3 separate regions of the Homo sapiens genome follow, and all the other regions are linked to region 3. The links come from fine-mapping of genetic effects on gene expression. A gene starts in region 3. Each other region holds a variant in brackets. All regions are shown on one strand. Distances are from middle to middle.

What was found. PIP is the estimated chance that this variant, and not a neighbour inherited with it, causes the effect.
Region 1: its variant is fine-mapped to the expression of ICAM1 in blood mononuclear cells (TOPMed, PIP above 0.99).
Region 2: its variant is fine-mapped to the expression of ICAM1 in whole blood (TOPMed, PIP above 0.99).

The regions. Positions count from the first base shown.
Region 1 is chr19:10,291,981-10,300,800 of GRCh38, reverse strand. ICAM5 (intercellular adhesion molecule 5) reads right to left here. Exons shown (of 11, transcript NM_003259.4): 4 at 8,479-8,766; 5 at 7,935-8,189; 6 at 7,555-7,803; 7 at 6,858-7,103; 8 at 6,483-6,761; 9 at 6,161-6,400; 10 at 5,189-5,455; 11 at 4,023-4,462. The coding sequence ends at 4,185. Among named protein-coding and RNA genes, the nearest start is that of ICAM5, 6.4 kb to the right of the region's middle. RefSeq lists enhancers at 918-1,167, 8,002-8,820, silencers at 1,074-1,238, 8,275-8,374 and a cis regulatory region at 527-1,359. The variant G/C (reference allele first, on the strand shown) is at 3,879.
Region 2 is chr19:10,301,274-10,309,757 of GRCh38, reverse strand. It overlaps ZGLP1 (zinc finger GATA like protein 1), which reads left to right. Exons shown (of 5, transcript NM_001409033.1): 1 at 1-409; 2 at 1,208-1,573; 3 at 3,806-3,912; 4 at 4,275-4,368; 5 at 4,550-4,955. The coding sequence starts at 273. The coding sequence ends at 4,667. FDX2-ZGLP1 (FDX2-ZGLP1 readthrough) reads left to right here. Exons shown (of 9, transcript NR_176052.1): 5 at 1-409; 6 at 1,208-1,573; 7 at 3,806-3,912; 8 at 4,275-4,368; 9 at 4,550-4,955. Among named protein-coding and RNA genes, the nearest start is that of ZGLP1, 4.3 kb to the left of the region's middle. RefSeq lists an enhancer at 3,697-4,896. The variant C/T (reference allele first, on the strand shown) is at 3,990.
Region 3 is chr19:10,265,676-10,275,558 of GRCh38, reverse strand. It overlaps ICAM1 (intercellular adhesion molecule 1), which reads right to left and starts at 4,439. Exons shown (of 7, transcript NM_000201.3): 1 at 4,333-4,439; 2 at 531-794. The coding sequence starts at 4,399. LIMASI (lncRNA inflammatory and mucous response associated, antisense to ICAM1) reads left to right here. Exons shown (of 4, transcript XR_007067138.1): 2 at 8,765-8,869. RefSeq lists enhancers at 3,638-3,877, 4,788-4,877 and a silencer at 7,232-7,526.

The DNA of each region.
Region 1 (8,820 bases), 26 kb before region 3:
CAAACAAACAAAAAAAAAAACAGAAAGAAAAAGAAAAAGTAATTGCAGTTTTTGCCATTACTTTTTTTTTTTTTTTTTCCTCTGAGACAGTCTCACTCTGTGGCCCAGGCTGGAGTGCAGTGGCGTGATTTCAGCTCACTGCAGCCTCCGCTTCAGGGTTCAAGCAGTTCTCCTGCCTCAGCCTCCCAAGTAGCTGAGACTACAGGGGTGTGCCACCATGTCCGGCTAATTTTTTTTGTATTGTTAGTAGAGACAGGGTTTCACCATGTTAGCCAGGCTGGTCTTGAACTCCTGACCTCGTGATCTGCCCACCTCGGCCTCCCAAAGTGCTGGGATTACAGGCGTGAGCCACCATGCCCTGCCTGCCATTACTTTCAATGGCAAAAACAGCAATTACTTTTGCACCAACCTACTAAAATAAATATCTCATCTGAAGGCTCTGAAAGAGACCTTGAGGTCAGTAGGAGCGGAGAGAGATCATTAAGTAGGGAGGGCACAGGCAGAAAAGGTGAGGTGCTGTTAGTGGCAGGGACTGCACCTGGCTGGTGCCTTTTTGGGTGTTATACCTGGCCCCTGGCTCCAGCACCGAGCACTGGCCTGCCCTCTTGTGCCATTTCCCCGTCTCATCTTTGCTCATTACATGTTTGCATGGGACTGGCTTCCTTCTCTAGGGCTCCGTGTTCCTGCTTTTGAGGGAGGAGGGGCAGAGGAGGAGGCTGTGGGGAGGAGGCCCAGCTGCTGTGCCTTATGCTGTTGGGGATGAGGGGGGAAGGTGCCGTGTAGTGGGGGTTGCAGCGGATACCCTGTGTGTGTCTGTTCTGAATCATGATGGGCTGAGTGGAAAGGCAGGGTGGGGGTAAACTGAAGCACTGTGGGTGGACACAGGACAAAGGAGGCATTGAGGGCGGGGCAGGGGTGCCCCCTTTAACAGGGAGGACATGCTAAGGGCTGACACCCATAGCATCAGCCAGTGCCTGCCCAGGAAGGTCTCACCGAAGTCTCAGGGCAGGGGCACAACGGAGAGGGCCTCCACCCACCCTGGCAAGGCGGCCTCAGCTCTGCCGGTAACCAGGCCTGGGGGAAGCACCTAGCCCCCACCTCCAAGAGTGACCCGGATCAGAGGGCAGTGCTGGGTGGAAGAGATAAGTAGGAGGAAGGAGTGAGGCCCCCACCCCTGCCCAAGGGTGTGAAGAGAGCAGAAAACAGGCACTGAGAGAGGACGAGCTCTAGGTCACACTGAGAAAAGACAGCCAGCCGGGCCAGGCACAGTGGCTCAGGCTTGTAATTCCAGCACGTTGGGAGACCGAGGCAGGTGAATCACGAGGTCAGTAGTTCCAGACTAGCCTGACCAACATGGTGAAACCCTGTCTCTACTAAAAATACAAAAATTAGCCGGGCGTAGTGGTGGCGCGCGCCTGTAATCCCAGCTACTCAGGAGGCTGAGGCAGGAAAATCGCTTGAACGTGGGAGGCAGAGCTTGCAGTGAGCTGAGATTACACCACTGCACTCCAGCCTGGGCGACAGAGAGACTCCGTCTCAAAAAAAAAAAAAAAAGAAAAAGAAAAAGACAGCTTAGATTGTGCCTGATGCATAGTAGGTGTTCAAAAAAAGTTTTTGGATTTTTTCGTTGTTTGTTTTTAGAGACAGGGTCTGGTTCTGTCACCTGGGCTGGAGCACAATGACGATATCATAGCTGGAAGTGGCTTTGACCTCCTAGGCTCAAAGGATCCTCCTGCCTCAGCCTCCCAAGTAGCTGGGACTACAGGCATGCACCACCATGTCTGGCTAATTTTTGAAAAATACACCAGGCATGGTGGCTTACAGCTGTAATCCCAGCACTTTGGGAGACCGAGGCAGGTGGATCACCTTAGGTCAGGAGTTCGAGACCAGCCTGGCCAACATGGTGAAACCCTGTCTCTACTAAAAATACAAAAATTAGCTGGGTGTGGTGGTGCATGCCTATAGTCCCAGCTATTTGGGAAGCCAAGGCAGGGGAATTGCTTGAACCCAGGAGGCAGAGGTTGCAGTGAGCCAAGATCACACCACAGCACTCCAGCCTGGGTGACAGAGCAAGACTCCATCTCAAAAAAAAAATTTTTTTTTTGAGGCCGGGCGCGGTGGCTCACGCCTGTAATCCCAGCACTTTGGGAGGCTGAGGCGGGTGGATCTCGAGGTCAGGAATAGAGACCATCCTGGCGAACACGGTGAAATCCCATCTCTACTAAAAATACAAAAAAAAATTAGCTGGGTGTGGTGGCAGGCGCCTGTAATCCCAGCTACTTGGGAGGCTGAGGCAGGAGAATGGCATGAACCCGGGAGACGGAGCTTGCAGTGAGCAGAGATAGTGCCACTGCTGTCCAGCCTGGGCGACAGAGCGAGACTCCATCTCAAAAAAAAAAATTTTTTTTTGAAACATGTTTTTTTGTAGGGTCTCGCTATGTTGCCCAGGCTGGTCTGAAACTCGTGGGCACAAGGGATCCTCCCACCTGGGCCTCCCAAAAGTCCTGGGATTACAGGCTTGAGCCACCATGCCCAGCCCCCTCAAAAAACACTTTTTTTTTTTTTTTTTTTTTTTTGAGACAGAGTCTAGTTCTGTTGCCCAGGCTGGAGTGCAATGGCAAGATCTCTACCTCCCGGGTTCTAGCAATTCTCCTGCCTCAGCCTCACGAGTAGCTGGGATTACAGGGCGTGTGCCACTACAGCCCAGCTAAATTTTTGTATTTTTTTGTTTTTGTTTTTGGTTTTTTTTTGAGACAGAGTCTCGCTCTATTGCCCAGGCTGGAGTGCAGTGGTGCGATCTTGGCTCACTGCAACCTCTGCCTCCGGGGTTAAAGCGATTCTCCTGCCTCAGCCTCTTGAGTAGCTGGGACTACAGGCATGTGCCACCACGCCCGGCTAATTTTTGTGTTTTTAGTAGTGACGGGGTTTCACCATGTTAGCCAGGACAGTCTTGATCTTCTAACCCCATGATCCGCCCGCCTCAGCCTCGCAAAGTGCTGGGATTACAGACGTGAGCCACTTCACCCGGCCTTAATTTTTTTGTATTTTTGGTAGAGAAGGTGTTTCACCACGTTGGCCAGGGTGGTCTCGAACTCCTGACCTCAAGTGACCCCCCCCCCCCGCCTTAGTTTCCCAAAGTTCTGGGATTCAAGCGAGAGTACTGTGCTCGGCCCTGGCTAATTTTTTTTTTTTTTTTTGAGACGGAGTCTTGCTGTCTGCCAGGGTGGAGTGCAGTGGCGCGATCTCGGCTCACTGCAAGCTCTGCTCCCCGGGTTCATGCCATTCTCCTGCCTCAGCCTCCTGAGTAGCTGGGACTACAGGCGCCCGCCACCACGCTCGGCTAATTTTTTTTTTTTTTTTTTTTTTGTATTTTTAGTAGAGACGGGGTTTCACCGTGTTAGCGAGGATGGTCTCGATCTCCCGACCTCGTGATCCGCCCGCCTCGGCCTCCCAAAGTGCTGGGATTACAGGCGTGAGCCACCACGCCTGGTTTTTTTTTTAAGACGGAATCTCGCTCTGTCGCCAGGCTGGAGTTCAGTGGCACGATCTCGGCTCACTGCAACCTCTGCCTCCGGGGTTAAAGCGATTCTCCTGCCTCAGCCTCCCGAATAGCTGGGACTACAGGCGCGCACCACCATGCCCAGCTAATTTTTGTATTTTTAGTAGAGACAGGGTTTCACCATATTGGCCAGGATGGTCTCGATCTCATGACCTCGACCTCGTGATCTGGCCGCCTCGGCCTTCCAAAGTCCTGGGATTACACGCATGAGCCACCGCGACCGGCCTTGGCTAATTTTTGAAAAATATTTTTTGTAGGGTCTCCCTATGTTGCCCAGGCTGGTCTGAAACTCTTGGGTGCAAGGGATCCTCCCACCTGG[G/C]CCTCCCACAAGTCCTGGGATTACAGGCCTAAGCCACCACCCCAGGCCCTCTCAAAAATCGCTTTTTGAATGAATAACTCGGGAGGTCACGACTGGAACCCTGGGCTTGTTCCACCTTGCAGAAACAGAAGCGGAGACAGGGAGTTCCTTTATAAAAACTTTATTGAGGGGATGGGTAGAAAATGGGGGTGACGCCCTTGGAGTTGAATACATAAATAAATGAATAAGTAAATAAATAAAGCAATAAATAAGCCCCCGTGTGAGTCTGGGGGGCGTCCCCCGGCCCGCGGGGAGAGGGGAGCGGGCTCACGCCGATGTCAGCTGTATGGCGAAGACCTCGCCCTCCGCCGGCGACTCGGCCGCGCCCCCCGCCGCCTCGGGTCCGCCCTCCGCGCCTGCCGCCCCGCCAGCGCCGCCGCCCGCTCCGTTCAGACACACGGCCTCGCCTGAGCTCTCGGCCTCCTGCACGTTGTACTCGCCCTTCTTGCAGGCGGTGGACTGCACGTAGAAGGCCAGGCCGGCCCCCGCGGCCAGCAGCGCCGCGCCCCCCGCCGCGCCGCCCACGGCGACCCATAGCCACGGACCTGCGGGGTGGAGACCCTCGCGGAGGGTGGCCAAGCTCCGGGGGGCTTCTCCCACCGCCCCCCGCACTCCCACAGGCACGAAGTCAGTCCTCATGCCCCGGGGAGCTCACTGTCTGGCCTTGGGAGAAGGGAGACAACCCATGCAATAAGGCCACTCCCAGTGCCAGGGCGACCCGAGTCCCGATTTATATCGCACTTCAGCCCATGGGGATATAAACCCGTGACCACACTTAGCCCCCTGGCGACAAGTCAACTCTCCCCATCCCCCAAAAAATGAGGACCGGCAGGACCAGGTCAGGTTCCCCCGACCCCAGAGAGAACCCAGCCCCAGGAGCTTCAGGAAGTGAGAGAAGGCGATCTTGACCCCTCTCTCCCTCCAACATCCAATGACTTTGGTCCCTCCCCAATCTTCCCCACAGTGGATTGTGAATTGGGTCAAGTTTCCACCACGCAGAATCCAGCCCAAGTTTTAAAGTCCTTTCCTGCAGCAGTGACAGCCCCGGAGGGTCCCTCCCCTTGAATTCAGTCCCCCTGCCACCTCCATCTCCCACCCCTCAAAGTGCGATCAACAGCCCCACCCGCTAAGGCACCTTTGACTTCTACTCTGTCCCACTTCCGTCTAGTCTACCGGGACCGAGAGGGAGGCAGGCGGGGCCGGCCGCCCCAAGACCCAGGTCACGCCCCCTCTCAGATACCTCGCCCCGCCTCTCCCCAGCTGCCACTTACCGGCCACGCGCACCGTGATGCGCCGCGCGTGGCGCCCGTGCGCGTTGGTGGCTGCGCACTCGTACTCGCCGCCGTGGCTTCCCATGGCGCCTGCCACGCTCAGTGTGCTGTTGTTGCTCGACAGGCCGATGTTGAGGGCCCCCGGGGGCGCGCGCCAGCTGATCTGGGCTGGAGGCCAGGCCTCCGCGCGGCAGGTCAACGTGAAGTTTCCTCCTGGGCGCACGCCTCCAGGGGGCGAGGCAGCAAGTTCGGCCACCACTGGCCGGTCTGAAGGGCACAGAAGGTGAAGTGGGGCTTAGCGCCGGCCCAGCCACTGATCAAATGCCCTGCTCCGGCCCACAACGATCGATGGGAGACCACCGCGCCTCTGATGGGCAGAAGAGGATCCTGCCTCCTATCAGAGCCTCCTTCCCCGACAATCAGGCTGCTGTTGCGGCTAAAATTCCTCGCCCTTCTTCACCGAATGGAAGGAGGTGAAGCCCAGGTCAGTGTTCTAATCCAGGATTTGAGGAGGGCCGTGCTCCTATTCCCTATAATTTTCTTTTTCTGTTTTTCTAAGAAAGAGTCTCACTCTGTTGCCCAGGCTGGAGTGCAGTGGCGGGATCTCGGCTCCCTGCAACCTCTGCCTCCCAGGCTCAAGCGATTCTCCTGCCTCAGCCTCCCAAGTAGCTGGGACCACAGGCGCCCACCACCACGACCGGCTAATTTTTGTAGAGACGGGTTTTCGCCATGTTGGCCGGGCTGGTCTCGAACTCCTGGCCTCAAGTGATTCATCCGCCTCAACCTTCCAAAGTGTTGGGATTACAGACCTGAGCCACTGCGCCTGGCTAGAATTTTCATTACCCCCTGGTTTAGGCTGGAATTCCCTGTCCCCGAGAATGGGATTGGGAGAGGTGCCCTTGAATGCTCCCACCGCTGCGAGTCATTCTTCCGAGGACCGTGTCCCCTCCATCCGGTGCTGCCCCCACTCACATTCCACGCCCACAGTGACGGTCCGGGAGTCCGTGCCATGCGCATTGGTGGCCACACAGTGGTAAGTGCCCGCGTCCTCTCGGGACACGCGCTGCTGCTCAGGCCATGGGATGCCTTCCCGAGAGCAGCGCACTCCTGGGGAAGGGCGACCCCGGGCGGCGCAGGCCAGCGCGGAAGCCTCAGCCCCTTCCAGCCACGTCTGGTGACTTGGGCAGGTAGATTCATCCATCTCCGGTGGCGCTGCAAAGCAGCCATGGGGGATGTCAGGGAGTGCCTGGACCGTGGGGCACCCCTGCTCCCTACCCGCCTGGGCCTCGCTCACACTCCGCGCTCACGACGACTGTTTTGGCCACGGAGCCGTGGCGGTTGGTGGCGTTGCAGACGTAGATACCGGGTGCCAGGACTCTAGGGATTCTGGGAGCTCTGGGACTAGGGTCTGGGGGTGCCAGCGGCAGCAGCACCCCCTCAGTGGCGCCCCCGGAGCCCACGCACTTCACGCTTGGCTGTGGCTTCCCATCGACCTCACAGGAAAACAGGCGCCCAGATCCTTCCACCCATGTCCAATTGCTGGGGCAGCTCGGCTCCTCAAACCTGGGGCCATCTGGGAAACAGGATTGCAGGGGCTCACACGGGGGCCAGGAAGTCCAGCCGGGGTTGTCCCACAGATCCTGCCTAACTCCGCGGTGCCCCTACTCACATTCCACCGTGACGGCCACATTTTTGGCCGCAGAGCCCCGAGGGTTGGTGGCTTCGCAGCGGTAAGTGCCCGCATGCTCCCGGGCCACACGCAACAGCCCCTCGATGACGGCCCCGAGTTCTCCAGAGCGCACGCAGATCACATCAGGCGGCGGTACCCCGTGCGCCACACAGCTCAGCGAGGCTTCTGTTCCCTCCAGCCAAGTAATGCGTTCTGGGCAGCCCACGCTGTCCAGCGCTGGTGCGTCTGGAGGAGGGAGTGTATTGTTGGCTTTGGGGTTTGGGGGCAAATCTGACGTCCCTAGACCCTCCTTGGCGCGGCAAGGCTTCCACGAAGTGTTGTCCCTGCATAACCCTTGGACGCCGATCCAAGGAGGTGTCACGCTAGTCGAGGCATGCACTCTGTCTGGGAGCTTCCTGAGCCACCAGTGGCGCCTTTTTCGTCTAAAAACTTAAACACTCTGGACTGCCCGCCTTTCCACGACTCCGCCCAAATACCACGCCCTAGGCTAGGGGCACGCCCACCCGGTCCCTTCCATCCTCCAAGATCTTTCTCCAACCCCACTAACCAGCCTCTTCCCTTTCCCAAAACCTCACCCAAAGGGACACCTCATACCCTACTCCTACTCTTCCCTGGAGGCTGGCCACCCTCCAGACCTTGAACCAGATAGAAATGCACCCTGCGCACCCCCACTCACACTCCACCGTTAGCGTTACGTCCTTGACCGCCTCGCCTTGATCATTGGCCGCCTTGCAGCGGTAAGTGCCTGAGAGCGCCCGAGTGACTGGACCCAGCAGGCCCAGAGCCAGCACGGCCCCGCCGTCGGAGCGCGCACAGTGCACTGAGGGTTCTGGGTTCCCGCGGGCCTCGCAGCGCAGCGTCTGCTCTGGGCCCTCGGGCCACGTCCAACTCCTGGGGCAGTCCGAATCGTCTAGCCGGGGAGCGTCTGCGGGCAGGGCGTGGGGTTACAGAGGCTTAGACGTAAGAAATGGCTCCGCCTCCACGACACGGTGAGGGAGCAGGCGGGTCCTTGGAAGTCACCAGAAGGTGGGGGGCGAGGGGTTATCACCAACTCACATAGGACACGAAGCTCTGCGCTCCTGTTCTTGATCAGGGTCTCCCCGTCCACATCGAGGGTGGCGTCGCAGAAGAAGCTGCGTCTGTCGTCGTTCTCGGTGGCATTTAGCTGAAGCTGGGCGGGCTGCCCCGGGACCGCGGCTGGAACTCCCTCCAGTGTGACCAGAGCTTGGGCCCCAGCTGCGCAGGTTACTGTCACCATCTGCCCCTCGGAGACGCTGGGTTCGCTCAGGGTCAGGAGTGGTGCCGGGAAGCCTGGGGGCGGAGCATTTGGTCGTAGTATACTGACCATACCCCTCCCTCCGGTCAAGGCCCGCCCCTTATCTGCCCGAATCCTCGGGGTGCTGAGAACGAACTAGGGTACGGCGCCCCGCCTCTCAGGCTGTACAGGCTCCTCCTCCCCAGCGATTACGTCTCCGCCCCCACCTGCCCCGCCCCTCGGGCCACGCCTGTTCCGGTACTGAGGTCCCGCCCACTCTTCGCCCCGCCTTCGCATTCCTCTGGTCCCACCTCGGAGCCGCGGAGACCCCGCCTCCTTCCTTACTGTAGATGGTCACGTTCTCCCGGGTCTCCCGGTTTTCGCCCCCCAGGGTGACGTTGCAGACCAGCTGCCTGGCACCCTCCTGCTCTGCGCTAGCTGTGGCTGTGGCAGTGGCCACGAATGCGTCCCCTTCGAGGGTGACATCAGGACTCAGATTCTGGTCCCCCAGTGCGAGGTAGACCCTGGCCTCTGAGGCTGGAAACAGTCCGTCCAGAGTGCAGCTCACGGGCCTTTCCGAGCCAACTTCCAAGAGCCGGGGAGCAGCGAGGCGCGGGGCATCCGGAGACAGGGCTAGGGGTCGAAGAACCAAGTTTGAACTAACTCCGAGCGCTCAATATGTCCTAA
Region 2 (8,484 bases), 35 kb before region 3:
GGGCTAGCGTGGAAGGCCCCGCCCCGGCAGCTGCGGAGGGATTTGGTGGGGTCCAGGCCGCCCTTGCCACGCAGGGGTGCGCGGATGACCTGAAAAAAGCCAGAAAGAGGAAAGGTGCCGCCGAGGCTGGTCGCTCTCAGCTGGGGCTCATCGCATCCTCTACCAAGAGCGCTCCCACCACACAGGTCCCGCCCCTCCCAGGTGGGTTTCATCGGGTGGGCCCAGCGGGACAGGGCCGGGTGAAATTAGGGAGGGGGCTGGGCTGGGGCGCAATGGAGGCCGAGCCAATCCCGGACTCCTCAATGCCAGCAAAGCTTCTGGCGCCGCCCTGTCTGAACCTGGAGCGGCTGGGAGGATCCCCCTCCCAGGAGAAGCCGAGGACCCCAGGATGCTGCAGAATCAGTGAGAGGTGCGTAAGGCCAAACCCCATTCCCCGGACCCCGCTAGCACTTCACCACCTGGCTCAGTGATCAAGGGGTCATGACCTCTCTTTGCTGGGGTTATCGAGAAGTGGCAATTTTATAATAGTTACTGAAACTTACAAAGAGGTTCTGGTGCCCAGAGACACTTGGGGTCATCTAGGGATCAGAGGCCATGCAATTCCATGTCTCTGGGGCTGATGTAGGCACTCCCCAGGGATCATCCAGGGGTTATGGAGGGCAACTCAATAATAATGAAAATGATAAAAATCGTAATCATATTATGGCAAGCCAGCGGCGTGGTGGCGCGTGCCTGTAAGTCCCAGCTACTCGGGAGGCTGAGGCGGAAGGATCGGTCGAGCCCAGGAGTTCTAGGCTGCACTGAGTCCTGATCACGCCCCTGCACTCCAGGCGGGGGTACAGAGTGAGGCTCGGTCTCTAAAAGAAACACAAAGAAAAAAAGTAACCTTTTTCTCGATCCTGCAGCCAGAGGCTTGATATCCTGCCTCGGTCACCTAGGGCGGTCCCTGCCTGGGTGATCTACGGGTGCCGTAAGGGGTTGATTGATGTGGAGGGCTGGGCGTGCCTGGGAGGCCCACAGTGGGCGAGGTGAGTTGCAATTACTGCAACTCTTAAACCTTCCACCCAGAGTTAGAAATGACTGAACCTCAGGTGGGGTGTGTAGCCTGTCCAAGGGTACACAAAGAGCCGGCCCAAGTTGGAACCCCCTGGCCGGCTAAACCCAGGAGTCACCCAAGAAAACGTGACCCCACTGCCCTTCTCCCCAGGTCCCTCTGGCCTGCATGCCAGGAGTCGGTCACCGCCCTGTGCTTCCTCCAAGAGACAGTGGAGAGGCTGGGTCAGTCCCCTGCCCAGGACACCCCGGTCCTGGGGCCTTGCTGGGACCCGATGGCTCTGGGGACTCAGGGCCGCCTGCTGCTGGACAGGGATTCCAAGGACACACAGACCAGGATCAGCCAAAAGGGCCGCCGTCTGCAGCCCCCGGGGACTCCCTCGGCCCCACCCCAGAGAAGGCCCCGGAAACAGCTGAACCCCTGCCGGGGCACCGAGAGAGTGGACCCTGGGTTCGAGGGGGTGACTCTGAAGTTTCAGATAAAGCCGGACTCCAGCCTGCAGATCATCCCCACGTACAGGTAGGGGCCGGCTGGGGCCAGGCCGCCCTTTCTCCCAGTTACAACGCAAACACCAGTGTGGGAGGTAGGGGTGCTCTCTGGCGTCGGTGTGGACCCTCACCTGTGCTCTACGTTACACGTGGCCCAGTCTCTGGTTGACAACTTGAGCTGGTGCCAGATACAGTCCTGCCGCTCCTGACTCAGTGGCTCCCCACTCCCAATGTGAGACCTGGTCTCTTTAGGAATCAGGCCTGGCCTTGCTTAGGCTGCAGCTGCGGCTGCGGTGATTTTTCCCAATAATGCTAACAGCTACTATTTGTTGGTAGTGACAACAATAAGAGGTTAACAGGCAGTATTTTATGTGTATGGGCTCATTCAAAAGCCTGGGGAGGCCGGGCACAGTGGCTCACGCCTATAATCCCATCACTTTGGGAGGCCAAGGCGAGCAGATCACCTGAAGTCAGGAGTTTGAGATCAGCCTGGCCAACATAGTGAAACCCCATGTCTACTAAAAATACAAAAAATTAGCTGGGCGTTGTAGTGGGTGCCTGTAATCCCAGCTGCTCAGGAGGCTGAGGCAGGAGAATCGCTTGAACTCAGGAGGTGAAGTCTTCAGTAAGCAGAGATAGCGCCACCTCACTCCAGCCTGAGCCACAGAGTGGGACTCAGTCTCAAAAAAAAAAAAAAAACTAGCTGGGAATGGTAATGGGCACCTGTAATCCCAGCTACTTGGGAGGCTGAGGCAGGAGAATCGCTTGAACCCAGGAGGTGGAGGTTGCACTGAGCAGAGATGGCACCACTGCACTCCAGCCTGGGTGACAGAGCAAGACTCCATCCCCTTAAAAAAAAAAAAAAAAAAGCTTTGGGAAGCTGGGCCTGGTGGCTCACACCTGTAATCCCAGCACTTTGGGAGGCCAAGGTGGGAGGATTGCATGAGCCCAGGAGTTCAAGACCAGCCTGGGCAACATAGTATGACCCCCAGCTCTAATTTTTACCTATTTATTGTTATTATAAAAATTATAATTATGACTTTTTTAATCATGCCGCCAAAACAATATTTTTTTTTTTTTTTGAGATGGAGTTGCACTCTGTCGTTCAGGCTGGAGTGCAATGACACAATCTCGGCTCACTGCAACCTCTGCCTCCCGGATTCAAACGATTCTCCTGCCTCAGCCTCTGGAGTAGCTGGGATTACAGGTGCCTGCTACCACGCCTGGCTAATTTTTGTATTTTTAGTAGAGATGGGGTTTTGCCATGTTGGCCGGGATGGTCTCGATCTCTTGACCTCAGGTGATCCATCTGCCTTGCCCTCCCAAAGTGTTGGGATTACAGGAGTGAGCCGCCACCATGCCTGGCTGCTTTTTTTTGCTTTTGTTTGTTTGTTTGTTTTTGAGACAGGGTCTTGCTCTGTCACCCAGGGTGGAGTGCAGTGGCGCAATCATGGCTCACTGCAGCCTGGACCTCCCAGGCCCAAGCCATCCTCCCTCCTCAGCCTCCCAACTAGCTGGGAGTGCAGGCCTGTACCACCACTCCTGGCTATTTTTTTTGTTTGTAGAGACGGGGTCTCCCTATATTGCCCAGACTCCCATCTCTTTTTAAAAATCAATAAATCAAATTTTCAAAGAAAAAAAAACTGTTGTATTGGGAAGCCCATTTTACAGATGAGGAAACTGAGGCACAGAGTAGGAGATAATGTGTCCAGGCTCACACAGCAAGGACATGGAGAACTGGGATTGGAACCTGGCAGGCTGTCCCTGTGCTTACTATTTTTCAAATAATAATAATAATAATTAGGTCGGGCACGGTAGCTCATGCCTGTAATCCCTGCACTTTGGGAGGCCGAGGTGGGTGGATCACTTGAGGTCAGGAGTTCGAGACCAGCCTGGCCAACATGGTGAAACCCCGTCTGTACTAAAAATACAAAAATTAGCTGGGCGTGGTGTCGCGCGCCTGTAGTCCCAGCTGCTTGGGAGGCTGAGGCTCAAGAATTGCTTGAACCCGGGAGGTGGAGGTTGTAGTGAGCTGAGATGACACCACTACACTCCAGCCTGGGCAACAGAGCGAGACTCCATCTGCAAAAATAATAATAATAATAATAATAATATTACTAATGAGAGGCAAAGCCAGGCCATTCAGATATTAGTTGCCTCCTCGGGGGATGGCTGATACCTTGATACTAAATCTTCATTTCGGAGGGCTGTTGGGGACAAGCTACAGATCCCCCCCAGTGCTAATACCTTGTCTGCCCCACAGCCTGCCCTGCAGTAGCCGTTCTCAGGAATCCCCTGCAGATGCTGTTGGGGGCCCTGCAGCCCACCCAGGAGGCACCGAGGCCCACTCAGCAGGCAGCGAGGCCCTGGGTGAGTCCTGAAAACCCAAGAGCTATAAATATTTTGGGGGCCAATTTCCTGTCTTCCCTGCCTTTCTCCCTGCCCCC[C/T]CCTTCTCCATCTTGCTTCCCCATTTAGAGCCCTCAGGGAGGAGTCGCAGCACCCCCCTCCACTTGGGCTGAGTCACCCCCACCCCCAGCTTCCTCCTCTGCGGAATGCTGCCATCTGTCTCCCTTCCTGGCTTTGCTGTGGCTTAGAGCTGGCAACTCCCAGGGCTGATCCAGAGCTAGGTGGGGCCTTTACTGAGACCCCCACAAAATGCCCGACTCCGCACAGGCATCCCGAGCTCACATGCTTGGCCTCTGACCCCTGCCCTTTGACCTCTGACCCTTCAGAGCCCCGGCGCTGTGCTTCCTGTCGGACCCAGAGGACCCCGCTCTGGAGAGACGCTGAAGATGGGACCCCTCTCTGCAACGCCTGTGGGATCAGGTCCTTAGAATGGAGGAGGGAGTTGGGGCGGGGGTCCCCAAATCAGTCCACGTGTAACCAGGATGGCCTGTGGGGAAAGCAAAAAGCAAAACACCTACCTCTTGGGAAAAGTGGTTTCCTTGTGGCGGTTTCCGGGCCCCCACTGCATCCTAAATGGCAGTTTCTTGTCCCCCAACCCTAGGTACAAGAAATACGGCACTCGCTGCTCCAGCTGCTGGCTGGTGCCCAGGAAAAATGTCCAGCCCAAGAGGCTATGTGGCAGATGTGGAGTGTCCCTGGACCCCATTCAGGAAGGTTAAACCCAGCTTCACCCTGCTGAGCTGCTGCTTCTGCCTCCGTTTCACCAGTGGGAGAATGGGCAGAAGCAGCTCTCCTAGGAGGATTGGGGAAAGAGCCGGCCTGCCTCCTCTCTGCCATCTCCAGATTCAAGGATCCCGGGGGAAGACCCAGGCCTCAGGTGGCAGAGCCTGCTAGGGGTCACCAGCCCCTTCTCCAGTCAGCCTTGGCCGAGGCCCCCTCAGGAGACGCTCTCAGGAAGGATGAGCATTGTTACAGCAGGGACAATAAAGTACAGAGATATGCCGAGAGAAAAAGCCTGTGATTTGGGATCCCGCCTCCTGTGCCCCTGTGCCAGCCCAGGAAGGTGGACAGGTGTTTTCTCGTTGGGGTTGTGAGGGGCGTGCACACACGTGCGCATGCACAGAGACACAGTCTTATCCACAGGCAGCAGCCCCCACACAGGGAATTAGCCACATTTACCACAATGTCCCATGCAGGGAAACAGCCACTACCCACAGACACACACAACAGATACAGAAAGACACACACAAGCCGGGTGCAGTGGCTCACGCCTGTAATCCCAACACTTTGGGAGGCTGAGGCAGGAGGATTGCTTGAGGCCACGAGTTTGAGACCAGCCTGGGCAACATAGTGAGACCCTGTTATATACAGAAGGGAAAAAAAAAGACACATGTCTAGCCAGGCACAGTGGCTCATTTCTGTAATCCCAGCACTTTGGGAGGCTGATGCAGGTGGATCACCTGAGGTCAGGAGATCGAGACCAGCCTGGCCAACATGATGAAACCCCGTCTCTACTAAATATGCAAAAATTAGCCAGGCGTGGTAGCATGTGCCTGTAATCCGAGCTACTTGGGAGGCTCAGGCAGGAGAATCGCTTGAACCTGGGAGGTTGAGGTTGCAATGAGCCAAGATCGTGCCACTGCACTCCAGCCTGGGTGACAGAGCGAGACTCTATCTCAAAAAAGACACATGCAAGACAGCCGTGCGTGCTGACAGACACATCAGCAGAGACACACGTCGACAGGGATATGCTGACACGTAGCTGAGTCACACACAGATACAGCCCACACAGGACACATGCACCAGACACACGTAAAACACACAAGTAGATGGCACACACTGGCAGCATATACCAGTGGATCCTTCATCTGTCACCCAACCCCTGCCTGCAGTGTGTCACTCTCCTTAGCCCCTGCTGTGTCCCCTACCCCCTTTTAAGATCTCCCTAATCCAGCCAAAATGTGTCTCCCGGGCCTGAAGTCAAAAGCCCCAAGTCAGAGGCATCTTTCAGCAGGCGGGACACACAGGCCACCAGCACTCACAGGGAGGGAGGGAGGATGGAGAGTCAAGACTGGTGGCGGGCTGGGCATGGTGGCTCACACCTGTAATCCCAACACTTCAGAAGGCAGAGGTGGGAGGATCGCTTGAGCCCAGGAGTTTGAGACCAGCCTGGGTAACACAGTGAGACCCCGTCTCTACCAAAAAATCAAAAAATGAGCCAGGGGTGGTGGTGCATGCCTGTAGTGCCAGCTACTCAGGACACTGAGGTGGGAGGATCACTTGAGCCCTGGAGGTCAAGACTGCAGTGAACCGTGATCGTACCACTGTACTCCAGCCTGGGTAATAGAGGGAGACTTGGGGAAAAAAAAAAAAGTAGGGTGGGCATGGTCCTTGCTGTGGGCGTGAGTGAGCCACAAAGCCACACACCCTTATGAGATCCTCTTTGTCTCTCCTGGGCAGCCCTGAATGGGAGAACTGGAGTCCAGATTCCTCTGCCCTCAGATCCCTGAATTATTTGATCTTACCCTTCCTTGGCCTGAAACACCCTCCCTCCACATCTCCCCATGGCTGACACCTTCTAATCGCTTGAGGAGGCCTGGCCCCAACATCAGCTCTTCAGAGAAGCCTTCCTTGACCACTCAGACTAAAATAGACACCTCCCCCGACTCAGGCCGGGTGTGGTGGCTCACACCTGTAATCCCAGCACTCAGGGAGGCTGAGGTGTGAGGATCACTTAAACTCAGGAGTTTGAGGCTGGGCTTGGTGGCTCACACCTGTAATTCCAGCACTTTGGGAGGCCAAGGCAGGAGGATCACCTGAGGTCAGGAGTTAGAGACTGGTTAACATGGTGAAACCCCACCTCTGCTAAAACTACAAAAAATAGCCGGGCGTAGTGGCAGGCGCCTGTAGTACCAGCTACTTGGGAGGCTGAGGGAGGACAATTGCTTGTTATCTACAGAATGAAAAAAACAAGACACATGCCCAGCCAGGCAGAGTGGCTCATTCCTATAATCCCAGCACTTTGGGAAACTGAGGCAGGTGGATCACCGGAGGTCAGGAGTTCGAGACCAGCCTGGCCAACATGGGGAAACCCTGTCTCTACTAAAGATACAAAAATTAGCCAGGCGTGGTGGCATGTGCCTGTAATCCCAGCTACTTGGGAGGTGGAGGTTACAGTGAGCCGAGATCGTGCCACTGCACTCCAGCCTTGGAGACAGAGACTCCATCTCAAAACAAAAACAAAAACAAAAAACTAATTAAAAAATAAAATAGGCCAGATGTGGCTCACAGGCTCACACCTGTAATCCAAGCACTTTGGGAGCCCAAGGCAGCAAGATCACTTGAACCCAGGAGTTCAAGACCAGCCTGGGCAACATGGTGAAACCCCGTTTCTACCAAAAATACAAAAATTAGCCGGATGTGGTGGCATGCACCTATATTCCCAGCTGCTTGGGAGGCTGAGGTGGGAGGATCACTTGAGTCTGGGAAGTTGAAGCTGCAGTGAGCCACGATCGTGCCACTGCACTGCTGCCTGAGCAACAGAGTGAGACCCTGTCTCCAAAAAAAAAATAAAATAGACATTCCCACTCTCACCCTGTGTCAGCCTCCGGTTCAGCTCCTTGCTGGTCTCCCTCTTAGAACCTATCAGAATTTCCATTGTCTGGAAGCCTTCCTTGACCACTCAGTCTAAAATAGAAAGGAAGGCTTATGGTTACATTATCCACATCCATCTCCCCTACTGCCCCAGGAGTTCTCAAGTCTGAGGTCGCCACATCTATGTCCTTGCCCACGACAGGCCTCTCCAGTGCCAAGTATAGAGAAGCTCTCTGCAAGGACACACCTTGAACACATATCTGCAAGCTCGTGGCTGTCTTTACCCACTTATTCAACATTTATTGAGCAACTGTGTGTGCTAGGACCCAATGAGGACCCTCAGTGGTGAACAGAACAAAGATCCCTGCTCTACTGGGGCTGATGTTCTAGGAGACAGTAAAAAAAAAAAAAAAAAAAAAACTCAGAGGCAGGACGCGGTGCCTCATGCCTGTAATCCCAGCATTTTGGAAGGCTAAGGCAGGCGGACTGCCTGAACTCAGGAGTTTGAGACCAGCCTGGGCAACACGGTGAAACCCTGTCTCTACTAAAAAACAAAAAATCAGCCAGGTGTGGCGGCATGTGTCTGTAGTCCCAGCTACTCGGGAGGCTGAGGCAGGAGAATTGCTTGAACCTGGGAGGCAGTGGTTGCAAGGTTGCAGTGAGCTGAGAGCACACCACTGCATTCCATCCTGGGTGACAGAGAGAGACTCCCTCTCAAAAAAAAAAAAAAAAAAAACCTCAGGTGTATGTCTAAGAGGATGTTAAGTTGTGAGCTGGGCTACAGAGAAAAAGTGTGCAAGGAAATAAAAGAGTTAAGGAGGTCGGGCGTGGTGGCTCATGCCTGTAATCCCAGCACTTTGGGAGGCTGAGGTGGGCGAATCCCTTGAGGTCAGGAGTTCGAGACCAGCGTGGACAAAATGGTGAAACCCCCTCTCTATTAAA
Region 3 (9,883 bases):
GAAGCAGGACCGTGTCATATGTTCAAAGAGTGAGGCATAGAGAGATGGCATTTTTTTTTTCTTGAGATGGAATCTTGCTCTGTTATCCAGACTGGAGTGCACTGGCACGATCGCGGCTCACTGCAATCTCTGCCTCTCAGGTTCAAGCGTTCTCCTGCCTCAGCCTTCCAAGTAGCTGGGATTACAGGCGCTTGACACCATGCCCGGCTGATTTTTGTATTTTCAGCAGAGACAGGGTTTCGCCATGTTGGCGAAACTTAAACTCCTGATCTCAGGTGATCCGCCAGCCTCAGCCTCTCAAAGTGCTGGGATTACAGGCATGAGCCACCGCACCCAGCCTGTAAATACTTTAATTGTACCCAAAGAAATTCACAAAGGGACTTTCCAAGGATGTCCCCACCTGCCCTGCAAGGAGCCCCTCCTTGACCCTACGAGCAAGTGGCAAAGATTCCCCCAGGCCTCTGCAGGTGCCCCTGCACGTCTCTCCCACCGGGTCTGCCTAGTCCAGCCCTCCGGGCTCAGTTACTCACAGTACACGGTGAGGAAGGTTTTAGCTGTTGACTGCCCATCAGGGCAGTTTGAATAGCACATTGGTTGGCTATCTTCTTGCACATTGCTCAGTTCATACACCTTCCGGTTGTTCCCAGGCAGGAGCAACTCCTTTTTAGGCAACGGGGTCTCTATGCCCAACAACTTGGGCTGGTCACAGGAGGTGCTGCATGTCACCAGCACGGAGCCTCCCCGGGGCAGGATGACTTTTGAGGGGGACACAGATGTCTGGGCATTGCCAGGTCCTAGAAGAAACGAGGGAAGAGGCGACAGGCATTACAAATCAGGTTCATCAAGGGAATGTGCGCCCAGCCTGTGCTGGGTGCTGGAGGCACAGCCTTAACAAGACAATACTTTGCCTTCGATGTGGAAGTTAAAGAGAAAATTCATGAGCAGGCCGGGTGTGGTGGCTCACGCCTGTAATCCCAGCACTTTGGGAGGCCAAGGCGGGCAGATCACTTGAGGTCAGGAATTTGAGATCAGCCTGGCCAACATGACAAAGCCCCGTCTCCACTAAAAATACAAAAATTAGCTGGGCATGGTGGGACGTGCCTGTAGTCCTAGCTATTTGGGAGGCTGAGGCACAAGAATCACTTGAACCTGGGAGGTGGAGGTTACAGTGAGCCAAGATTGTGCCACTGCACTCCAGCCTGAGCAACAGAACGAGACTCTGTCTCCAAAAAAAAAAAAAAAAAAATTATGAGCAAACAAGATAATTAATAACTGATGTTAATATGAGCTTTGACAAAAACAAAACAGGGTGATAGAATAGACAGTGCTTTGGTGACAGGGTAATGTTTCAGCAGAGATCTAAATGACGAGAAAGGGCTGGCTGTCCGGAGAAAAGGGAAATAAGTTCCAGGCAAGTACAGATGTCCCGGGGCAGGGTGGCTGGAGCTGAGTGAGCAAGGATGAAGAGGGGGAGATTAATTCAGGAAGATCCCGTGAGCACTGAAGGCCATGCTAAAGATGTGTTCTTTTATTTTTTTTTTTTTTGAGATGGAGTCTCGCTTTGTCACTCAGACTGGAGTGCAGTGGCGCAATCTCAGCTCACTGCAACCTTTGCCTCCCGGGTTCAAGTGATTCTCCTGCCTCAGCCTCCAGAGTATCTGGGATTACAGGCAAGCACCACCACGCCCAGCTAATTTTTGTATTTTTAATAGAGACGGGGTTTCGCCACGTCGGCCAGCCTGCTCTCAAACTCCTGGCCTCAAGTGATCCGCCCGCCTCAGCCTCCCAAAGTGCTGGGATTACAGGCGTGAACCACCACGCCCAGCCACATGTGTTCTTTATACTGAGGGCAATAGGGAGCCATGGAAGGACTTTAGCCATCACTTTTTTTTTTTTAAACGGGTCTCCCTCTGTTACCCAGGCTGGAATACAGTGGCACAATCATAGCTCACTGTAACCTTGAACTCCTGGGCTCAAGTGATCCTCCCATCTCAGCCTCCCAAGTAGCTGGGACTACAGGACACCACCATACCCGGCTAATATTTGAAAAACATTTTTTTTTTTTTGAGACGGAGTTTAGCTCTTGTTGCCCAGGCTGGAGTGCAATGGCACGATCTCAGTTCACCGCAACCTCCGCCTCCCAGGTTCAAGCGATTCTCCTGCCTCAGCCTCCCGAGTAGCTGGGATTACAGGCATGCGCCACCACGCCCGGGTAATTTTGTACTTTTAGTAGAGACGGGGTTTCTCCATGTTGGTCAGGCTGGTCTCAAACTCCTGACCTCAGGTAATCCGCCCGCCTCAGCCTCCCAAAGTGCTGGGATTATAGGTGTGAGCCACCGCGCCTGGCCCTGAAAAACATTTTTGTAGAGATGGGGTCTCACTATGTTGCTAAGGCTGGTCTCAAACTCCTGGCCTCAAGTGATCCTCCCGCCTAAGCCTCCCAAAATGCCAGGATTACAGGTGTGAGCCACTGTGTCCAACCAGATTTTAATGTGAAGTTGGTGCCCTCCTCCCTCCTAAGAAGTCAGGTGGAGACAGTCAGCCCTCCAGGAATCAGACTGGCTCCTCACTCCCTGAGACACGTAGTTTCCCCCTCTTTGGGCCTCAATTTCCCCATCTGTAAGGTGGGTGAGTATAGCCACCCCATCCCTTGCTAATACAAGTAACTCAGCACAGGATGGGTAGCAACTGGCTACCTTGCAGGTAAGAAAGAAGGGGCTTACGGGGTGGGCACTGTGGCTCACGCATGTAATCCCAGCACTTTGGGAGGCAGGGTGGGCAGATCATGAGGTCAGGAAATCGAGACCATCCTGGCTAACACAGTGATTAGCCGGGTGTGATGGCACATGCCTGTAGTCCCAGCTACTCAGGGAGGCTGAGGCAGGAGAATCGTTTGAACCTGGGAGGCAGAGGTTGCAGTGAGCCGAGATCACGCCACTGCACTCCAGCCTGGGCGACAGAGTGAGACTCCGTCTCAAAAAAAAAAAAAAAAAAAAAAGAAAAGAAAAGAAAGAAAGAAGGGGCTTATTTGGATCAGGTCCCTCAGATTCTGCTGCCTCCGAAGGTGGGAAAAAATGTCTGAGCCCAGCACTGCCTCACTCAAAGATTCCTGTCTCAGATTTGTTCTATCTTGGATGGGGGTGTGAGGACACTGGCTCCATACATTCTCCAAGGGAGATTCTGGGACCATTCCCATTTCATAGAGAGAAATGGTTACTCAGCTAGAAAGCAGTGCGATCTGGGTCTGAGTCCGGATCAGAACGCTTTGTTTTTTGAGACAGAATCTCGCTATGTCTCCCAGGCTGGAGTGCAGTGGCACAATCTTGGTTCACTGCAACCTCAGCCTCGTGGGCTTAAGGGATTTTCCTCCCTCAGCCTCCCGAGCAGCTGGGATCACAGGCGCCCACCACCATGCCAGCTAATTTTTGTATTTTTAGTAGAGACGGGATGTTGCCATGTTGGCCAGGCTGGTCTCAAACTCCTGACCTTAAGTGATTCGCCCGCCTGGGGCTCCTAAAGTGTTGGGATTACTGGCATGAACTACCGTGCTGGCCTGGATCTCAGGCTTTGTTGAGCTGTTAACCAAGCTGTCAATCTCCCACCCTCCTGGTTCCCCAAACTTACACCACCATGAAAGACCCTCTGACCCCTTCCCTCTTCCCTAGCTGGGCTGGAGCTGGGGGAGGGTGTGCTGGGGCGTCCCACTTCTCAGCTTTGGGCCACGGATAAGTCAGCTCTGGAATTCCCCCAAGTAGAAGCAGCCCTGGACTTCCCCAGGGGCAGAGAGGATGAGGAACAGAATATACATCTTGAGGGGGGTGGGGGTCCCTTAAGCCTTGTTGGGTTGGCACAGAGCCAAGTTCCCAAACCATCATGATCGAGTCCTGGGGCCAGGTGCTGCGCTGGGCCAAGATACCCTGCCAGGTGGCCGCTATAACGTTTCCCGTTTTACAGCTGAGAAACTGTAAGAGACGCAATCTAGCCAAGCAAGGCGGTGGTTCACACCTCTCATCCCAGCTACTCGGGAGGCTGAGGCAGGAGGTAAGGCTAGACCCCCGGAGTTCAAGACCGGCCTGGGCAACAAAACGAGGCCCGCCCCTCCCCTCCATCTCCAACCCCCTACCCTTTTTTAAAGCTGCAATCTATAGCCCAAGGCCACACGTGGAGGTATGCAGGGTCTGGATTCGAACCTACTGGCTGTTGCCTTTCAATCGCTGTCTCTAGCCCCTCCTTCCCATAAACAGCTACCTAAGCATGCATGACCTGACCCGGGAGCCGGTCCTCCCGGGGCTTCGGAGAACTGGCCCGACGGCAATCCCCACCCCGACTCACCTGGGAACAGAGCCCCGAGCAGGACCAGGAGTGCGGGCAGCGCGGGCCGGGGGCTGCTGGGAGCCATAGCGAGGCTGAGGTTGCAACTCTGAGTAGCAGAGGAGCTCAGCGTCGACTGGGGCGCGTGATCCTTTATAGCGCTAGCCACCTGGGGGCCAAGGGGCGGTGCTGCTTTCCCGGAAACCTCGCGCCTTCCCCTCCGGAACAAATGCTGCAGTTATTTCCGGACTGACAGGGTGCCCGGGCCGAGAGGGTCATCCTCCCTCGCTGGCCGCTTCAGCTCCGGAATTTCCAAGCTAAAGCAATCGGGCGGCGGTGGCAGGGCGATGACCCCGGGGGCTGCTCCCGGCCTCCACGCCTCCCGTTTCCCGGCCAGGCTAAGCTTGAATCACGGTCTACACCGCGCTAAGCGGTTTATTAAGTACTTTTAAATACTGCCAACTTCCCCGGAGAGTGGAGACTGTTATTGTGTCCATTTCACAAAGCGGTAAACTGAGACTCCAGGCTGCGAGGGGGTCCGAACTCAAGTCCTCCCTCTCCAGCTTACGCAGGCCTCTTTAATCGAGTGGATGAGCCCCCTGCCTGGGTGGGGGCCCAGGAATCCTCCCCGGGCTCCCTCCACTGAGGGATGCCCCTCCCCCTAGGTCACGTCCACACCTAGCTGACACGGGCATTTCTCGAGAAGCGGCCAGAGCAGAGCCAGGCACCTCCCGGCGACCGCTAACCGTGGGAGTGACGAAGCGCGGTCTCACCACGTCCGGGGAAATCGGCGTCCTCTCTCTACACCCGAGGGCACTCACCCCGGCGGCCTCCTCGCTTCCCCTTTCGGCCTTGGCCGCGGAGGCGTCTTTACAGCTCCCAGAAAAAGGAAGGAAGCTGCGTGATCCCTACGCGCCGAGCCCCTCCGCTGGCGTCCCAGGCTCCGCGGGGAAACTGAGGCAGCTAGCTTGGATCTTGACGAGGGAGGGGAGGGGGACGCTCGAAATCCCTGCCTGTCGCTGGGAAACTGAGGCAGCAGCCCCCAGGCGCAGAGGCGAGGCAGGGAGAAGGGGCGCTCGAACCCCTGCCCTACGCGCGAGGCTCCGGCAACTCGAACCCAGGCTCATGCACTAAATATGAGCGGGTGTTTGCTTGGCCACCGCCTGTGCGTGTGACCCCAAGACTCGACATCCACCACGTCGAGGCTGGGTACTCTTAAGTCTCCGAGCACCAAGCCGCGCCGCCTAAGGCTTTCCTGTTGTGGGGCGCGCGCGGCGTCGCCATGGAGATCTCCGAGGGGCCAGGGAGGTCGCGCAGCAGAAGGGGAAGCGAAGGGTCCCCGGACGCGCAGGCCCTTCCTATCGGGGAAGGGGGCTGCGAGTCACTGGCCATCCAGAGACGCATATTTCCCCCGCCTCGGTCATTCCCAAGGAATTTCCACGGGGATATTTTTTTCTTGGGGGGCTGAGGAGTTCTGAATTCCCGCCCCGGAACGGCCTGAGCAAAGTCACAGGGTGGGACGGGGGACGCCCCTGGTCCTCAGAAGGCCTGGGAAAATCCTGCGCCACGGGTTCTTCCTCGGGCGGGTTCCACTGAGCTCTTGCCCCGGCCCGAGGTGCGCGAGCTCCCCCGCGCGGCCCAAGTCCCACTTGCAGCCACAATGGTGCCGTTCTTTTCTCAACATGTGGCTCAATGTTTTTTAAGCGCCTACTGTGTGCTTGGCGTCCTTCCAGGTACTGGGGACACAGGAATGAACAGAGTCAGACAAAAATCCACCTGGGCGCGGCTCCCACCTGTAATCCCAGCATTTTGGGAGGCCGAGATGGGAGGATCACTTGAGCCCAGGAGTTCAAGACCAGCCTGGGCAACATAGGGAGACCCCCATCTCTATGCAAAATACAAAAATTAGCCGGGTGTGGTGGTGCACACCTGTAATTCCACCTACTTGGGAGGCTGATGCAGGAGAATCTCTTGAACCCGGCAGGCGGAGGTTGCAGTGAGCCAAGATAGAGGCACTGCACTCCAGCCTGGGTGAGAGTGAGACTCAAAAAAAAAAAAAAAAAAAAAAAAAAAGGAACAGCCAGGAGAACAGTGTGGCTGGAGCAGGCTTAGCAAAGGAGAGATTCGAGGAGAGGAGCGGGCAGGGAGATGACAGGGCAGATAGGTGCAAGTTCCTGTCACCTGAGGAGGACTTTGTTGTTTTGTTTGTTTGTTTCTGAACCCCAGTCTCGTTCTGTCACCCAGGCTGGAGCACAGTGGTGTGATCTCGGCTCACTGCAAACTCTGCCTCCCAGGTTCAAGCGATTCTCCCACCTCAGCCTACCGAGTAGCTGGTACTACAGGGGTGCGTCACCACGCCTAGCTAATTTTTGTATTTTTAGTAGAGATGGGGTTTCACCATGTTGGTCTCTAACTCCTGACCTCTAGTGATCCGCCCCCCTTGGCCTCCCAAAGTGCTGGGATAACAGATGTGAGCCACCGTGCCTGGCCAGGACTTTGGCTTTTATGCCCAGCGAGGTGGGAGGTATAGAGGGTTCTGAGCAGAGGAAGGACCTTGCCCTAACTCAAGTGTTCACAGGGGCCCAGTTGAGGCTTCAAGAGCTGCAGCCAGGAGATGGGAGAGGAGGTGACTGTTCTAGTCCAGATGAATGATAGTGGGGCCTGGACTGGGCAGTGTCCTTGGAGAAAGGGCTGAATTTGACATCCGTTTTGGAGGCTGGGCCAACTGGAGGTGCTGGGACAAGGGGGATGACTCCTTGATCAGGGTCCGAGCCTTTTGGAGGATGGCGGGTCACTTTCTGAGATGGGAGTGGGATGGCTATGGTAGGGGGCAGGCTGGCAGAGAGAGACGGCACCTCCCAGTCCTCCGTTCCCTTAAGCGTTTTTCAAGGAAAAGGGAAGCAGATATTTCCTAGACCTTTGTTTCTGTCTCCAGGAAGGGCAGGGCTTCCTCCCGGTTGCCAGACAGTCAGGCAGGCCAAAGAATGGCCTCAGACCAGAGGCTGCCCACCAAGGGCAGAAGCCATCCCATAGTGTCCCATGCAAACGCCTTGCAGTTCCCTCAGCCTGGAATGCTCTTCCCTTCAACCCCAACAAGGCTGGCTCCTCCTGTCTTGTGGCCTGAGCTTTCTCCTAAATGAGTGTCCCCCCTACTCCATCCTGGGCCACATCCTGGGCGTTCCTTGTCACTCGCCTTAATATTCGAATTCCTTAACTCATTACTTGCTGAATTTCTTTTTTAATTTTTTGAGACAGAGTTTCACTCTGTCACCCTGGCTAGAGTGCAGTGGCACGATCTCAGCTCACTGCAACCCCTGCCTCCCAGGTTTAAGTGATTCTCCTGCCTCAGCCTCCCGAGTAGCTGGGATTACAGACATACGCCACCAGACCCGGCTAATTTTTGTGTTTTTAGTAGAGACGGGGTTACACCATGTTGGCCAGCCTGGTCTCAAACTCCTGACCTCAAGTGATCCACCTGCCTTGGCCTCCCAAAGGGCTGGGATTATAGGCATGAGCCACTGCTCCCGGCCTATTTAGTTTTTTTTTTTTTTTTTTTTTTGAGACAAAGTCTCGCTCTGTTGTCCAGGCTGGAGTACAGAGGTGTGATCTCGGCTCACTGCAACCTCCGTTTCCTAGGTTCAAGAAATTCTTCTGCCTTAGCCTCCCAAATAGCTGGGATTACAGGCACCCACCAACACCCCTGGCTAACTTTTGTATTTTTTTTTTTTTTCAAGATGGAGTCTCACTCTGTGGCCCAGGCTGGAGTGCAGTGGTGCGATCTCGGCTCACTGCAACCTCCACCTCCCAGGTTCAAGTGATTCTCCTGCCTCAGCCTCCCAAATAGCTGGGACTACAGGTGCGTGTCACCACGCACAGCTAATTTTTTGTATTTTTAGTAGAGACAGGGTTTCACCGTGTTAGCCAGGATGGTCTCGATCTTCTTACCTCATTATCTGCCTGCCTCACCCTCCCAAAGTGCTGGGATTACAGGCGTGAGCAAACGCACCCGGCCAACTTTTGTATTTTTATTTTACTTTTCATTTTATTTATGTAAATTTTTGTGAGGTCGTCTCACTCCGTCGCCCAGGCTGGAGTGCAGTGGTGCAATCTCGGCTCACTGCAACCTCTACTTCCCAGGTTCAAGCGATTCTCTTGCCTCAGCCTCCCAGGTAGCTGAGACTACAGGTACCCACCACCACATCTAGCTAATTTTTGTATTTTTAGTAGAGATGAGGTTTTACCATGTTGGCCTGGCAGGTCTAGAACTCCTGACCTCAGGTGATCCGCCCGCCTTGGCCTCCAAAAGGCGTGAGCCACTGTGCCCGGCAGAGCTTATCTTTGATTACAGATTTCTTCTGGGGAATAGCTTAGTTTGTGGTTTTGTTTTTCAAAACTCTGCTTCAGCAAAGATGTGGGGAAAAAAAAAGGGCTATGGAAACTCTTCTGATTCCAGTTTTGGTGATGGAAGACAGCCACCAGGAAACCCTGCCGAAAGAATGGGTCAGATCAATAATCTGAGCGGTCCCAGTCCTCCTCCAATGGCTGATGGATGAGGAAGGTAAATATCAGTTCTAAGAAGCAGACAACTGGACATGCACATTCATAGCAGAAGGAAACCGTCAAAAAGTAGAGGGAAGGTGGGGTGCAGTGGCTCACCCCTGTAATCCCAGCCCTTTGAGAGACTGAGGTGGGAAGATCACTTGAGATCAGGAGTTCAAGACCAGCCTGGGCAACACAGTGAGAACCTGTCTCTACAAAAAACAAAATAAGTAATCCCAGCACTTTGGGAGGCCGAGGCAGGCGGATCACGAGGTCAGGAGATCGAGACTATCCTGGCTAACACAGTGAAACCCCATCTCTACTAAAAATACAAAAATTAGCCGGGAGTGGTGGTGGGCGCCTGTAGTCCCAGCTACTCGGGAGGCTGAGGCAGGAGAATGGCGTGAACCCAGGAGGTGGAGTGCAGTGAGCCGAGACCATGCCACTGCACTCCAGCCTGGGCAACAGAGTGAGACTAAGTCTCTAAATAAATAAATAAATAAATAATAAATAAAATTTAAGGCCGTGTGCAGTGGCTCACACCTGTAATCTCAGCACTTTGGGAGGCCAAGGCAGGAGAATCACCTGAGGTCAGGAGTTCGAGACCAGCCTGGCCAACATGGTGAAACCCTGTCTCTACTAAAAATACAAAAATTAGCTAGGTGTGGGGACGCGGGCCTGTAATCCCAGCTACTCGGGAAGCTGAGGCAGGAGAATTGCTCGAACCTGGGAAGTAGAGGTTGCAGTGAGCCGAAATCACGCCACTGGACTCCAACCTGGACAACAGAGTGAGACTCTGTCTCAAAAAAATAAATAAAATAAAATTTAAAAAGTGGAGGGCTGACCATGCTGGACGAGCAGATAAAATGTGTATGTCTAAACAACAGTTGCTGACCAGGCACCTGTCATCCCAGCACTTCGGGAGGCCGAGGTGGGTGGATCACTTGAGGTCAGGAGTTTGAGACCGGCCTGCCCAAACTGGTGAAACCTCATCTCTAGTAAAAATAAAAAAATTAGCTGGGCATGGAGGCAC